Linked DNA regions of Homo sapiens: region 1 is linked to region 2. Evidence: fine-mapped expression QTL. Tissue or cell type: tibial nerve. Region 2 holds a variant in brackets; the other region holds the start of a gene. All regions are shown on one strand. Distances are from middle to middle.

Region 1 (2,757 bases), 190 kb after region 2:
TGCTCAAGGTCACTTGGCTGAAGTCAGCGCTAGGATGCATCCCCAATGCCCCCACCCCTCCGGGTGGCCGTCCACCCTGAAAGTCTTTGTATTATCTCCTACAGGGCAAGGCTGGTGTGGCTGCAACAGACTTCGCCCCCTCACCCCCAAATCTGGGACGGAGCAGCGCCCTCAGGTGTCAAGGAGGGGACCTGAGTGACGCGGAGCCACTGACTGGGGTTTCCCTGTCCTGCGGGGCTCGCGGGAGCCAGGAGCAGAAGCCACAGCTCTCGAACACACGACAGGCAGTCAGTCAAGTCAGGCTCCAGCAGCAGTTGCCGGCGTGGGGCTTAACACGAGAGGGGCAGCGCTGGGTGAATTCCCCTCCGAGCGATCCCAGGGCTAGGACCAAGCGCCTGCGCCCGCTTCTCCGACCCGGCTCCCCACACTCCCCCCTGCCCCGCTGGCTCCTTCCCGGAGGTTCCCCTGTGCGTGGGGGCGCCCTGGAAGAGGAATGGGGCTGGGGTGGAGTATGGAGGTGTCAGAGGGCCGACCCCGGGGCGAGGGCTTCCAACGCCGATCTTATGGGTCAGGACAACCGCGAACAAACCCCGGCTGAAGTTTGGGCATCAAGGGTTTCAGACCAAGTAGCAAGTTGCCTGGAGAGCGAGCGGTCCTAGGTGGAGGGCCTGGGGCAGGGGTGGCGGTAGGGGAACAAGGGAGAGGCAGGAGATGGTGCCCCTTCCCACGCAGCCCCTCGCGGCCCCGCGGGTAGGTGGCCGGTCCGCCTCTGCAGCCCGCGGGTGCGGAGAAAGCGCCCGGCACCGGGCACCCGGCACCGCGGCGCAGCGCAGCCAGCCCCTCCTCGCCGCGCTCCGCGCTCCTCCCCACCTGCCCACGGCCTCGCCCCCGCCGCGGAGACTCACAGTCCTCAGAAACTGGATCTCGTCCTCGCCTCCTTCTCCCCCTTCGGCCATGGCTCCCGAGGCGTCGGCGGTGCCCCAGCCTCCGGCGCCTCTGCTTCCCCCGGCAGCCGCTCGGCGTGCGCTGACTGCTGCTGCGCTCTTTCTCCTCCTCCTTTTCGTCCTCGTCCTCCACCTCCTCCTCCAGCTCCTGGCTCAGCCTCAGCCTCAGCAGCGCCAAGCTAATCCCCGACCATATAGGGAGCTGGGCTAACACTCCACTGCACTGCAGAGCGCCAACGCCAACCAAGCAGTCCGCCCACCCCTCTCGCCTCTCGCCCCAGCCAAGTGCGCTGCGGCCGCCCGCTCCGTGGAGAGCGCAACGCTGGGCGCGTCGAGCTGGCGGGGGCGGTGCGGGGGCCCTGGGCTGGCGCGGTGGAGCCTCCCCCGCACCGCTGGGTACCGCACCGCACACTCAGCGGAGGCGCGCGCCCCGCGGCGACCGGAGGATGTCCCCTAAACTGCTCCAATTCACAAACAAAGGCCAGTTGCTTAGCTCCAGCGCGCCCAGACTGGGTACCAACCCTCTCGCTTTGCTCGCTTTGCCCGCTTTGCCCACTTTGCCTGTGTGTGTGTGTGTGTGTGTGTGTGTGTGTGTGTGTGTGTGACAGAGATAGAGAGAGAGAGAGAGGAAAGAGAGAGACAGAGACAGAGAGAGAGAGAGAGGAAAGAGAGAGACAGAGACAGAGAGACAGAGAGAGGAAAGAGAGAGAGACAGAGACAGAGAGAGAGAGAGAGAGAGAGAGAGAGATCTGGACTCGAATACCTTGCTAGGACCCGCGTGCATTGTTGGGCAAGGAGAAGACGGTGCAGTGAGGAGCGAGGGTGATTGTCCACTTACAACAAAGTTTGCAACTCCCTGGATAGTCCTTTCTACACCTTAAGAGAACCCCTTCCCCTCTTCAAAATTGGTAAGTACACTTTACCAAACCCCTGGATTGTCCAGGGTTGCTGTGACTTCTGTACCCCAGGGAGCTTCTGGGGGATCCTGTGCCACCCTCAATTTGGAAGTCAGGTGGCATCACAACCCTTCCTCTCTGCCCACCCCTAACCTTATTCTGCATTTAGAGTTCCAGCCCTGTGGACTCTAAAGGGAGTAGAGAGTAGTTACAGGAGGCTCCCTTCCAGGTCCTGGAAGGCTCCTACATCCCACCCAGCCTTAGGTCCTTTTCCATGGTTGGGGATTGCCAGATTGGTCCTTGCCTTGACTGACGGTGCAGGGTGCCCCCTTCTGTTTGATGGCCGAGAAGCTCCAAGGCAAGAGACTGTTCAAGGCAAAAGGCACCAGAGATGTAGATTTAGGAGGAAGTGCAACTGGGAAGGTGGTAATTCTGGGCTGATGATGGTGGAAGACACTGGAAACCCCAAGCCATTTCACAGCTTCATATACCGCCTCCTTGTGGACGACATCTATCTCTTGATGCTACCTTAAGATCTCTTTCCTGAGCTTCCGTCCCATATGTTCTGATGAACATCAGAAATGCAAAGAAAAATGTTTTTTTCTTGTATTGTACTCAAACTGCTACCTTCTAGGCTTCAGCTTGGGCCTTGTGCCTCTTCTGAAACCCGCCTAGAATAAGTCAAACCATCTGTACATTGTGGCCCTTCACCTCTTAGAAGGCATCTGCCATGCTTGCCTCTATGGCCCACCATCCACTCTTTTCTTCTCCTGGCTCAAGGTTCTTCTTAGCCCCAACTTTCCCTGTAGTATAGTTTCCAGAGCCTATGTCATCTTTGATGGCCATATGAGCATTCCAGGTGGTCTTCTTCCTGAATTGTTGTGCTCTCCGTCCTTGTTTTGGACAGTCTTTATGTG
Region 2 (2,757 bases):
AGAACATTTTAGATCAGCAAATATTCAAATATTTCATTTACGTAGTGCTTGATATTGGAAAAGATACAAAGAAATACAAAGCAAAACCACTGCCTTTCTGGAGTTTACAATCCCATTTCAATGACACACCATTTTCCTTGAGAATACAGCTTGTGATCACCTGTGTACCAATCCTTTGTTTCCTACATGATATTGGCAGAACATCAATACCATGAGAACAACAGGAATGAGGAATGAGGGCCAGAAACTACCGACAGCCATGCCTAACACTTCAAAACAGGTAAAGCTGTTTCCATGGAGCTCCACTTTAAAAGCTAAACCAAGTCTGTTACTAAGGCTCCGACAACCTCTCTAACTTCAGCATTTAGTTTTAAAATAAAAATAATGGAATTGACCATCTTTAAGTTCCCTTTAATTTCTGAGTGTTTATTCTTCCTCCCCTCCCAACTGCAACATTCTCAAAAATAAGATAATCGGCCTGCTGGACCTGCCTACAATTTTCCTTTATTAAAGTTTTAAGCCAGTAATGGACAATCCTATTCCAAAGGCTACTGGCTCTGGGTGACGTACATTTTCAAGTACTTTTCTACTAAGGATTTGAGGGAGTACTTTTCTACTTAAATACTTTTCTACTCAAGGTCTCTATGCTGAGAAATCCTAAAAACCTAGTCTTAGAATTCTGGCAATACAGGAATTTGCCCAATCCTTTTTTATTAAAACCATTAACTAAGAAGAGATTGTAACAGAGGAGGATTACCGCCTTTATTTTGTGTTGCTCCCTTTGTTTTCAAAGTCTGTTCCCAAAGCAGGTAATTAACTTATTTGTATGGGACTTGAGCAAGCAGGCAGCTGGTGATGCAGGGCAGAGCTTCATGTCCAGGAAATGTTTGTACAGTACATACAGCATTATTACAAATAGCATACAATTATATGATAAAGCATTTCCTTAAGACCTTATACCATAAACATATATTGTCTAACTTAGCCTTCCAAAATATGATGCCATCTCAGGAGATTTTATAGAGATTTTTCTACCACTCTGCCTACCTGAATTTCATGTTCCCAGAACAGGAAGCATAAAAGCCATAGTTTGCTTGTTTCTTCCTCTTCCAATTCATCAGAATGAATGATTTGGAGATTTCCCATTGAAGAATGTCTGCAGTTATGGTTGGCCCTTTAAAGTCTGCTTTAAAGTTTAATTTGGCAAATTAAATGGTCACAACATTAATGCCCACTTTTACAATAACATATTCAGTCTATTCTCTTTAAGACAGAAACCCTCATAGCTCCAAATGCTAAAGATTCTGCCCTTACATGACATCATGTAATTCTAAGTCAGCTTGCTTTCCTTCCTGTGTCTGGTTTGAGACAGGAGACAGGAGCTCTCCTTGTCTCTGCCATCAGCCATTTTGAAGGAGAAGCACTAATAGATAATAGGGACACTAGGCATGCTATGATTATAGCTGTCCTTTCAGTCCAGGTATTGAAAGTCCCCAGGTGCTCACAATTTCATTACTGGTTTGAATGGGTATATTTAAACAGGACAATAGTGTGCATGGAGAGGAAGCCTCTCAAATGGGAGCACTGTACCTGCCACTAGTTTACAGAGTTTCCTGGCAGCTTAGTTTCTGTACCTCTGGTGTGTGGTCCCTGCCTGGACTCTCTGTACTTGGAAATAAGAGCATGCCACTCCAACAGCAC[C/A]CAAAACAATGTGTGGGCAGTGGTAAGGGAGGGAACAGAGCAACTGGAATGTCTGGAGAAAAACAAAACAACGAAAAACTTGTGACATGAATGGAGCACAGAGCCATCTGACCTGCTATGCCAGCTGCCATCCTTAATTAAACTCCAAACTGGCCTGAACTCCCACCTCCACACTCCTGATGAATGAGCAAAGGCCACTCGTCCATTAAAGCTAATTTGTTTGTAGCCATGAGAGTCCCCTAGGAGGCCAGCTCATTGTGTCTGTGCTGTGGAACCTGTGGCCTCAGTCACTCTACCTGGCAGGCACGGGGCAAGTGTTTGATGACTCTCAGCATGGAGAGAAGGGCTCTGTTGACATCTGTTCTGAAATAGCTCCTCATCACTCTCCCCAAGCCCTGCCCTGAACCTAGAGAAGCACTACATTTCCAAATGTCCTACAGGAAACCTTGAGAGGCCAGGGCCCTGGATAAGCCAGGAACTAGGATTCACTTAGCCTCACTATGTGGAAAACAGTAGGAGGCAAGGTCTATATATCCTCCATGCTCCATAAATCTATATAATGGCATATTTTTCTGGGGCTTATTGAATCCTGGCTAGTAGGAATCTGCTGCCCCTGTTTTGTAGTCATTTAGCATTTCTCTATCTGGCAATCCACAACATTCACTTCGCACTGTGCTAGCATACACTAGCCAAGCCCTCAGGGAAATGAGGTAGGGAGTTAATTACACAAAGGAAGACCATCACCTCTCTCCGTTGTACTGTTAACTGCAGTCTGTTTTGGCTTATATCGTTCTTGATGCATTGAGGTTTGTCTGTTTCACCAGACTGTGGGTCCCTTGAAAGAATCTGTGCCTTATTCTATTGTTGGTATCCCAAGTACATAGAATAGTAAGCACCCAACTCAAGTCTTCTTGAACAGATCCTGTGTCCTTCAAGACTATCATCCAGGAGTGTGGTGCTGATTATGGCTGTGGCTGTAGACAGATTGCAATGACTCCTCAAGTCTCCTGCCTGTTATTCAACACGTCTTTCTTCTCCCCGTGGTCACGAGCCCCT

Which allele goes with the higher level. Positions count from the first base shown, and alleles are read on the strand shown. Sizes are in standard deviations (SD) of each study's normalised expression.
For the expression in tibial nerve of the gene that starts at base 1,035 in region 1, C is the low allele of the variant in region 2 and A is the other (small effect, 0.18 SD a copy in GTEx).

What was found. PIP is the estimated chance that this variant, and not a neighbour inherited with it, causes the effect.
Region 1: it holds the start of RYR3, and the variant in region 2 is fine-mapped to the expression of RYR3 in tibial nerve (GTEx, PIP above 0.99).

Annotation. Positions count from the first base shown.
Region 1 is chr15:33,309,245-33,312,001 of GRCh38, reverse strand. RYR3 (ryanodine receptor 3) reads right to left here and starts at 1,035. Exons shown (of 104, transcript NM_001036.6): 1 at 906-1,035. The coding sequence starts at 956. It overlaps RYR3-DT (RYR3 divergent transcript), which reads left to right and starts at 1,343. Exons shown (of 3, transcript NR_120327.1): 1 at 1,343-1,424. RefSeq lists enhancers at 1-302, 303-814.
Region 2 is chr15:33,499,923-33,502,679 of GRCh38, reverse strand. All of the region lies in intron 2 of RYR3 (ryanodine receptor 3), which reads right to left. Among named protein-coding and RNA genes, the nearest start is that of RYR3, 190 kb to the right of the region's middle. The variant C/A (reference allele first, on the strand shown) is at 1,702.